2 separate regions of the Homo sapiens genome follow, and region 2 is linked to region 1. Evidence: fine-mapped expression QTL. Tissue or cell type: whole blood. Region 1 holds a variant in brackets; the other region holds the start of a gene. All regions are shown on one strand. Distances are between the middles of the regions.

Region 1 (5,209 bases):
CTCAGATTTTCTGCCCACCTCAGCCTCCCAAAGTGCTGGGGTTACAGGCGTGAGCCACCGCGCCCAGCATGGTAGTTCTTTAAAGTAAGCTAAAACACTTAAAGATGTCAAAATTCTGAGTACAGAATATTCACAGACTTGTATTTATACAGGTCTACTTTTATCACTCACTTTTACCTCAATAGCATTTTTAAAGAATCTCTAATTTTTGTTTCTGGCACATTTTATTTAGGCTTTATAAAAATAAAAAGTTTTCCTTTTTGTGATTATAGTTTAGTAGTTTTTATTACAGTAAACCACTTATGCCATTGAATAAATAGAGCAAATGGCATTACTTTTGGGAGGAGAAAACTCCCTGTTGATAAATATATACATCAACCTGTGGAGACAGACGTGTTGGAGTTGAAAGCATTGATTCTACCAGTAACAATCATGTGTGATTTATGGTCACTGATTAGCACGTTACATGAAGGGAATATGGAGAAAGAATTTACTCAGCAGTAAGTCAAGCAGAGGTGAGTTAAGGGAGATCTTGCAAAATTTATGTAAATTAATGGAAATCTATCTGGAAGGATCCTCACCACTTGTAGACAGTGTTCCTTCCTTAGGTTGAGGTTGTGGAAGAAGGAGGGGTATAGTGTGTCCCAGTGAGTATTCACCATAGACACATACGTTTATTCCAAATATTCATTAAAATATTTTAATATTAAGAGAAGTTATGAAATTACTGGTAAAATAAAAATATAGGGGATCAATGAATCAAAAGAGGAGAATAACTGGAAAACTTTTGGAAGAGAAATCTTAAAATGAATTTAAGTAACAAAATGTAGGTCAGTAGACATAGTGTGGGCATGAATAAAGTTTCTCTAAAGTCCAAACACTGTTGCTGTGGTTATCAATCACACCAATTCTTCAAAAATCGTAGTAACTAGTAAGGAAGGCTCAATTTTATCCTGATCTGAAGGATTCTGTGTAGACAGAAGAGGAATCTACACTGGGGGCCAGGGGAGGTAAAAATGCCCTTCACTCACAGCCTCTAGTCAACACTTTTGTTTGCTAAAAATCCACTTAAACTAGGCAAGGAAGGGAGGAGGGAGGCAGAATAACAGAGGAGACAGGAACAGAGAAGCAATTCAGAAACTTTGAGGATAGAGAAGAGTACTGTGAGTACATGAGAATGAGAATGTCAAGACACTTTTAGAAATATAATTATCTGTTTGCAGGGTGAGATACTTAGGAATTTTTAAGCTCCATGAATTTTTCATGGCTGAAACTCACAACCCTCCTCTACTCCCCCATATTTATCTGTAAGTAAAATTTGCATTATTATAAATTGGATAATTGAGACTCATTTAAACGGTAGAAAAATGTTCAGAGTCTTCTGCTGATGACAGAATGTGGAGACATTACAGATTCCAGTTTGCACAACCTGCTGTTTCACAGAAGAAATGCACATATCAGCACCTCTCTCACAGACACCAGGTATCTGCACAGTACCAAGAGCTTACCATTGTCATCTAACTGTTCTTAACATGTCTGTAGCATCAAGTCTTTATCTGTGGCATATAGACAGGATGCTATGTGTGTCTAGTTTTCTCAGCAAATGACCTTCCTGCTATATAAACTCTTTCGTGTTCCAAACCCAGAAATGTTTTACAGAGAACAATTAATACTGAATTTTCTGAGATAGTTTCCATCTAAGGACCTGAAACTTACTTGAAAAGCATGAGTTACTCACTTGGCATCTGGTGTCAGAATGATGGAGTGACGGCATCTGTACAGGTGTGGAAAGGACATCTGAACCTGAGATAAAGATTTGGAACTCCCTGATCTCACCTTTTTGCTGGGAAGTGGTTATCACTTCACCTGTAATTGCAGCGACCATCTGTAAGGAGAATGGAGGTTATTTGCGAAGAACATTTGAGTATTGTGTATATTACTGAAACTATTAATGGTGAATCATAAAGATATCTAATAGGAATGACAGAAGTAGCTGAGGAGCACCCTATGTAGGAAAAAATGAAAAAGTAAAAATAAAATTGATCTGTAGGGTAGGTAAGCAGAGGACAGCAAGATCTAAGGAGAAAGAGAATGAAGGTGAGAATATGGCTCTGCTGGATTCCTGGCCGCTTTGAAGGTTTTGGTAGCAGAATATAGAGCTGTGTGTGAGTTTTTTA[G/A]TCATCCCATAGAACAAAGGTAACTTGAAGGTAGAGACAGTGAATGAATTAGACAGAATTTCTGGAGAGGTAAAAATGAATAGGAAATTGGTATGTCATATTTCTTCAGTGTTTCAAAAACTATTTATTGAGACCAGGTGCAGCGGCTCCCACTTGCAATACCAGCACTTTGGGAGGCAGAAGCAGGAGGATCCTTTGAACCCAAGAGTTTTGAGAGTTCGAGGCTGCTGTTAGCTGTGATCATGCCACTGAACTCCAGCCTGGACAACATAGCAAGGCTCTGCCCCTCAAAAAAAATTATTGCATATTTTTTGTGGGTCAGGTCATTTTTTCATTATATGGGGTATATCAACACACAAAATTAAAAAGAAAATTGCCTACATGGAACTTAGACTTAGTTGATAGAAACAGACAGTAAGCAGTAAGCAAAGCACCCATGTTATTCGGCTGATAGTGTATTAGAAAATGATGGGTCCTATAGAGCAGGATACAGCTGAGAAGTAAAGTTGGTAAGGATGGGGTGAAACAGTAAATCAGGTGTTCATAGTAGGACTTACAGTGAAAATGACATTTAAGATATATTTTAAGGGGGCGAGGAACTTAGCTTTCTTTCTTCTTTACAGATTATATATTTCTTGTCTCACCTAATTGCATGAGACAGGACTTTCAATATAATTGACTATATGTGCAGACAGTGACCATCCTCCTTTGGTTTCTGGTCCCGAAAATATTTTAATAATGGACCATGAGTTATTGTATTTACTCTAGGATTTTGCAGATGTTCTTTATAAGATTAAGGAAGAGTATTTTTGAGAGCAATTTGGGAATATATTACTTCTTTTTTTTTTTTTTTTTTTTGAGACACAGTCTCACTCTGCTGCCCAGGCTGGAGTGCAATGGCATGATATTGGTACACTGCAACTTCTGTCTTCTGGGTTCAAGTGATTCTCCTGCCTCAGCCTCCCAAGTAGCTGGGATTACAGGCACGTGCCACCATGCCTAGCTAATTTTTGCCTTTTTAGTAGGGACGGGGTTTCGCCATGTTGGCCAAGCTAGTCTTGAACTCCTGATCTCAGGTGATCTACCTGCCTCGGCCTCCCAAAGTGCTGGGATTACAGGCCTGAGCCACTGCACCCGGCAGGAAGTATATTACTTCTTGAGCCGTGAATATTTTTGGTGTGTATTATTATTTTCCTTAAACAAATTTAGTGCAGTATAATACAAATAGGATGATCCCCAATTTCCAGTGTATAATTTGATGAGTGCTGACAAATATAAACAGCATGTAACCACTACCACAATCCTGATAGAGAAGGTTCTCCTCACCCTATGTACTCTTCTGCCCTTTGCAGTCCGCCCCTTCCTCCTAGGCCCAGATCTGAGGATCACTCATTTGCATTTTGCCACTTGAGTTTTACCATTTCTAGATTTTTATCTGAAAGAAATTTTACTCTGTATAGACCTCTGAGTTTGGTTCCTTCACTTGTGCTTTTGAGATTCAGATTAATGTTTTTTTCCCTCCTTGACATTTATGAGGAATATTCTATTTATAAATGTAACACAGTTACCCATTCAGATGTGCATAGACATTTGTTTTTGTTTTCCAGTCTTTAGCTTTGAAGAAAATTGTTGATAACACGCAAAATCAGTTGGCTTTCTATATCCATGGGTTCTGCATCTATAGATTCAACCCACTGCAAATTGAATATTTGGAAGAAAAATTGCATCTGTACTGAACATGCACAGACCTTTTTTGGGTCATTACTCCCTAAACAATACAACTATTGTGTAGCAGCTATTTAAACAGCATTTACACTGTATTAGGTGACAATGTATAGCAACTATTTAAACAGCATTTGCATTGTATTAGGTATTATAAGTAATTTAAATTATAATTTAAATTATGTGGGAGGATATACACAGGTTATATGCAAATACCACATCATATTATATAAGAGACTAGAACATCTTCAGGTTTTGGTATCCTTGGGGGTCCTGGAATCAGTCCCCCATGGATACTGAGGAATGATTATACAAGTATTTCTATGGACACGTTTCCATCTCTTGAGGTTATACTTAGGAATGAGATTAATTTATCAAATGATAAGTGGACAACTAACTTTAATAACGGCTACAGTGTTTTCCAAATTTATTTATTTTGCATTTCCACCAGCAATGTATGAGAGCTCCAGTTTATTTCATACCTTCAACAGCTAGGTGTGATCATTCGGTTAATGTTACTCATCAAAATGAGTATGTAGTGGTATCTCATTGTGGTTTTCATTTGTAGTTCCTTAAATAGTAATAATTCTGAACTTATTTTCATGCATTTATATACCATTCATATATCATCTTTAGTGAAAAATGTGTTCAAATATTTTGCCTTTTTTTTTTTTTTGACATGGAGTCTAGCTCTGTTGCAGACAGACGGAGGGCAGACGGAGTTTCACTCTTGTTGCCCAGGCTGGAGTACAGTGGCGCGATCTCAGCTGACTGCAACCTCTGCCTCCCGGGTTCAAGCAATTCTCCTGCCTCAGCCTCTTGAGTAGCTGGGATTACAGGTGCCTGCCACCACTCCTGGACACTCCCGGATAATTTTTGTATTTTTACTAGAGACGAGGTTTCACCATGTTGGCCAGGCTGATGTTGAACTCCTGTCCTCAAGTGATCCGCCTTCCTCAGCCCCCCAAAGCGTTGGAATTACAGCTATGATATCTCACCCTGTTGCCCAGGCTGGAGTGCAGTGATTTGATCATAGCTCACTGAAGCTTCGACCTCCCTGGAATCAGTGATCCTTCCATCTCAGCCTCCCAAGTAGCTGGGGCCACAGGCACACACCACCATGCCCAGCTTATTAGCTAATTTTTGTAGAAACAGTGTTTTGCCATGTTGCCCAGGCTGGTCTTGAACTTTTGCCTATTTTTAAATTGTGTTGTTTATGCTATTTGTAGGGATGTTTTACGTATTCTGAATACTCATCATTTATTAGATAGAGGTTTCACAAATATTTTTCCCAGGCTGTAGTTGGCCCT
Region 2 (5,131 bases), 50 kb before region 1:
TTTGCAGATGTAAATATAGATGTAGAAATAAATTTGTATAGAAATGTGTGCAAGTGGCCGGGCACGGTGGCTCACGCCTGTAATCCCAGCACTTTGGGAAGCCGAGGCGGGCGGATCACGAGGTCAGGAGATCGAGACCATCCTGGCTAACACGGTGAAACTCTGTCTCTACTAAAAATATACAAAAAATTAGCCGGGCGTGGTGGCAGGCGCCCGTAGTCCCAGCTACTCAGGAGCCTGAGGCAGGAGAATGGCGTGAACCTCGGAGGCTGAGCTTGCAGTGAGCCGAGATCGTGCCACTGCACTCCAGCCTGGGCGACAGAGCAAGACTCTGTCTCAAAAAAAAAAAAAAAAATGTGTGCGTGCATGTGTATGTATCTGCTTTCTCTCCAAGAGGACCTAATAATCAATGATTTACCAGTAGAAAAGAGCACAGCTAATGCTTACTAATATTTACAAGCATTGTTATCTATTGAAGAAAACCAGAGCTCCTTGAAAAAGAGGCTGATTCTGGGGCTGGGATAGCAAGGGTACAACATGAGCCTGAAAATATTTTTGGATTAGAAAGTAATGAAATTATCAATAATATTGACATAAAAAAGCAGAGAGCACAGCTTTAATGAGTTCCCACTGTCCAAACATCTGGGAGAATCTGAACATTAAAATAAATGTTGGGGCCGGACGCAGTGGCTCACGCCTGTAATTCCAGCACCTCGAGAGGCCGAGGTGGGTGGATCATGAGGTCAGGAGTTCAAGACTAGCCTGGCCAAGATGGTGAAACCCTGTCTCTACTAAAAATACAAAAAATTAGCTAGGCATGGTGGTGGGCAACTGTAGTCCCAGCTACTCGGGAGGCTGAGGCAGGAGAATGGCGTGAACCTGGGAGGCGGAGCTTGCAGTGAGCCGAGATCGCGCCACTGCACTCCAACCTGGGTGACAGAGCAAGATTCCATCTCAAAAAAAAAAAAAAAAAAAAAAGTACATTACCTTGCTGAGAATTAAAAAGAAAATTTTATATTCGAGTGCTATTTATTTTGCGGCTCCAAAACTTTATAACAAAGCAGCAGAGATTTCTCGGCCAGGCTCGGTGGCTCATGCCTGTAATCCCAGCACTTTGGGAAGCCGAGATGCGTGGATCACCTGAGGTCAGTGGTTCGAGACCAGCCTGGCCAACATGGTGAAACCCCGTCTCTTCTAAAAATACAAAAATTAGCTGGGTGTCATGGCGTGCGCCTGTAGTCCCAGCTACTTGGGAGGCTGAGGCAAGATAATCGCTTGAACCCAGGAGGTGGAGAGGTTGCAGTGAAACAAGACTGCGTCATTGCACTCCAGCCTGGGCAATAAGAGTGAAACTCCATCTCAAAAAAAAAGAAAAAAAAAAAAGAAGAGATTTCTCACCTATATACCCTGAGTGTCTCTGCAGCCAGCAAAGCAGATGAAGGCCTGCTGGGTTGGAGCCCTAGGCCCTCCAATGCTGAAATGCCCTGTGAAGTCTCCATCCATCCAGGCACTCTAGTAACCTGCTTCTTCTGCCTGGAATTTATTCTAAAAATACCCACATGGCTCATTTCTCACTTCCTTCAAGTGCATTTCACCGGCTTTCTGATTAAGAAGTCCCACCTCTCCCCTTTGTCTCTTATCAAAGTAGCATTTCTTTCATTGTTTTTTGAGATTGATGTTAGACTTCTAGAAGGAATATATCTCAGATATCAAGTAAGAATTATGAAATGGATAAAAGCGTTGCTCAGTGAATTGGACACAGTTATTGACTGGACACAGTAATTGGACACAATAATTGACTATGCAGGCAAAAGATGTTTTCTGTTGGAATCAGACAGAATTCTACCTTTGTACTACTGTTTCAAGGTGATCTAACATTTCTCTTCTATCTTCTAGAAGCACTATCATGCCACTATCTGAAGTAGTTTTTCACCTGTCCCTGACCAAAAGTGCACAGACTGACTTCAATGCTTCGGAGTGCATACATTTGAAATGTAATATGATAGAGGCTGGGTACGGTGGCTTACGCCTGTAATCCCAGCACTTTGAGAGGCCGAGGCGGGCAGATCACCTGGGGCCAGGAATTTGGGACCACCATAGTGAAACCCTGTCTCTACTGAAAATACAAAAAATTAGCCTGGCGTGGTGGCGCGCGCCTATAGTCCCAGCTACTTGGAAGGTTGAGGCACGAGAATCGATTAACCCGGGAGGCGGAGGTTGCAGTGATCCCAGATGGCGCCGCTGCACTCCAGCCTGGGGGACAGAGGGAAACTTTGTCTTAAAAAAAAAAAAAAAGGAATAAACTTATATGGTAATGTTTATTAGCTTCCCTACTAGTGGATATATTTCGTGTCTGAATGGCTCTATGGAATGATGTACATATTTGGATTGGCAGCCTTAGGGAGCGTCTGATAATAATTTTAGCCTCTGGGAGCCTGCTGAACTTTATGAAGTTTGAAATAATATTCCCCAAACACTTGGGTGATCAGTTGCAGATGGCACCTCTAATATGCTGTCTGATTACGACCCATTTAAGAAAGGGCGAAGTCCCTCCACTGCCCTAGGACTTGGATAAGCCATTTCTCATCGCCCAGCGCCCTGGAGCTTCGCTTTTACTCCAAGAGGTTGGTGCAAAGGGTCCCCGGCACCCACCTCGGGATCTATGAAAACTACATTACCTAGAATGCTCTGCGTTGAACGCCACGCTACTAAGCCAGTAAGAGCTCAGAAAACCGACTTTCCTTGAGAGTCACAAAAAGAAAGGACGGGACTTTTGGGGGGGCCTCTTCGTGGCGGCCATTTTAGCTTCTCTGAGGTGTGTTCACCGGATCAGAGATAGCAGAGCGCCGAGTTGGGGCCACGAAGGCGTGAGGGGAGTCGTCGTCCCTCCTGCACGAAAGCGTCTAAGCCTTGGCGACGCCGCCCTGGGGGACCCACGTCAGGCCTGGGATAGGGACCGCTGTCCCCGGGTCCCTACCAATGTCGCCCGTCGCTCCCGGCCCAGCTCTACCCGCAGAGTCTGATGGCAGCGGCCACTCTGAGGACGCCAACTCAGGTGAGTGCGGCGTCTTCCCGTCCTCACACACCTTCCCCCACCCACGTTCTAAAGCCATCAGTGAGGGGCGCCTGCTCGAGTCCCCGCTGCCCAGGGTCGGGGACACTGAGGCGTTCGTGGGTGGGGCCCTTTTTTTGACACTGCGTGTGACGAGGTGTGGGAGAGCGTGACAGGCGGAGGAACCGGCGCGTGCAAAGGTTGAGGCGCGACTGAGCCAGGAGAATTCGGAAAGCTGTTTTCTGCAGGGAACGAAGAATATGAGGCGGAGTTACTCCTAGGGTTGTACTGTCATTGTGAGGATGCTAGAAGCCACGGAGAGTTCTGAACAAAGGAGGGACGCCATTTATGTTAGTTTTTTTTTCTTTGAGACGGAGTTTCGCTCTTATCGCCCAGGCTGGAGTGCAATGACGCGATCTCGGGTCACTGCAACCTCCGACTCCCGGGTTCAAGCGATTCTCCTGCCTCAGCCTCCCCAGCAGCTGGGATTACAAGCCTGCAGCTGGGATTACAACGTCCGGCTAATTTTTTGTATTTTTAGTAGAGACGGGATTTCACCATTTTGGCCAGACTGGTCTGGAACTCCTGACAAGTGATCCTCCTGCCTCGGCCTCCCAAAGTGCTGGGATTACAGGCGTGAGCCACCGTGCCCGCCCTATGTTAGGGTTTAAAAACTTTTCCAAAGACTGTTCACAGGAAGAGCAGCGATGGGGCGATGAGGACATTGAGATAGTGGGAGGCTACATCTTTTTTTCATTGCCCTACAGTTGGCAAGAGGTGACAGCACTGAGACCAGAAAGTAAAACAGCCAGCCTGAGTTCAGGGCCAGGCAGGGCTACAGGGAGGCTTGAGCTCATCTAGCCTCACCAGGGATGCATTCCTCTTTCCCTGGTTCTCCCAGTTGTAGAAGGGCGTATGGAACTCACATAGGGAAGTGGAGAGTGTTCGGTCCCTCAGTAGCCTCTACCCCCATGTTCTTGGGATTGTGGTTTCCTAGTATTCTTAAGTGCTGTTACCCCAATCCTGGGTCTGGTGCCCTGGAGAAATTCCAAGCCCAGGGCTCTTAAGTCCATGCCAGAGGTTACAGGGGTTATACTGAGGTGTTCCCATTTTTGTCAGCCAGTGGAAACTTGTGAAAGGTTATCTCTGGCACTGGTATCAGGAGGCGCAAGTGCTTAGTAAAACTAAGCTGAGATTTTTGAGGAAACCATAGATCTGTTTCCTTTTAGCTGGGAACAAAGAGCAGGGGGAAGGAGTCAGGACTGCAGTGGCTGCCTGAGAAGTTGGGTACCTATTCTGGAGGTAATGAGAGATTTGGGTTACAAGAGGGAGGTGATCTTACCAAAGTCCTAACAGGGTCCATCCCGTTAGCGTGGAGAGCAGACTGTGGGGTTGAGGGAAGAGGAAAGAAGATCAGAGTGGAAGCTACAGCCAGTCCAGGGTAATGGACCAGAGTCATTGATTAGGAGATGTGTTGCATTCTGGATGCAAATTTTTAAAGGGAGCAACTAAATTTTCTGATGTAGACAGCGAGGGAGTGAAACAGGATTCAGCGATGACCCCATGGTTCTTCAACTGAGATGGAGAAGTTGGTATTAACAGTAATATTCACTGGAGACAACAGGAGCTTTATTTGGTCATGTAAGAGTTTGAGATGTTTCAGAGACATTAAGTAGGCATTAAGTAGGTGGCTGAACACCCAGGTCTGGAAATCTGGGGAGTGCTTCAGAATGGAGACATCCAAAATGTGGTGGTCATTGTGTGGACTAAGGTGAGTGAGCTGTGGATTACATTTAGAAGGGTTGTTCTATTTTTTTTTTTTTTTTTTGAGATGGAGTGTCTCTCTTGTTGCCCAGGCCAGAGTGCAATGGCGCGAGCTTGGCTCACCACAACCTCCGCCTCCCGGCTTCAAGCAATTCTCCTGCCTCAGCCTCCCGAGTAGCTGGGATTACAGGCATGCGCCACCACGCCCGGCTAATTTTGTATTTATTTAGTAGAGACAGGGTTTCTCCATGTTGGTCAGGCTAGTCTTGAACTCCCAACCTCAGGTGATCCACCCGCCTCAGCCACCCAGAGTTC

What was found. PIP is the estimated chance that this variant, and not a neighbour inherited with it, causes the effect.
Region 2: ZNF154 starts here. The variant in region 1 is fine-mapped to the expression of ZNF154 in whole blood (INTERVAL, PIP above 0.99).

What each region holds. Positions count from the first base shown.
Region 1 is chr19:57,656,660-57,661,868 of GRCh38, reverse strand. It overlaps a transcript of ZSCAN4 not described here. Among named protein-coding and RNA genes, the nearest start is that of ZSCAN4, 9.7 kb to the left of the region's middle. The variant G/A (reference allele first, on the strand shown) is at 2,178.
Region 2 is chr19:57,706,863-57,711,993 of GRCh38, reverse strand. It overlaps ZNF154 (zinc finger protein 154), which reads left to right and starts at 2,790. Exons shown (of 3, transcript NM_001085384.3): 1 at 2,790-3,055. The coding sequence starts at 3,023. RefSeq lists enhancers at 2,610-2,669, 2,690-2,819, 2,563-3,202.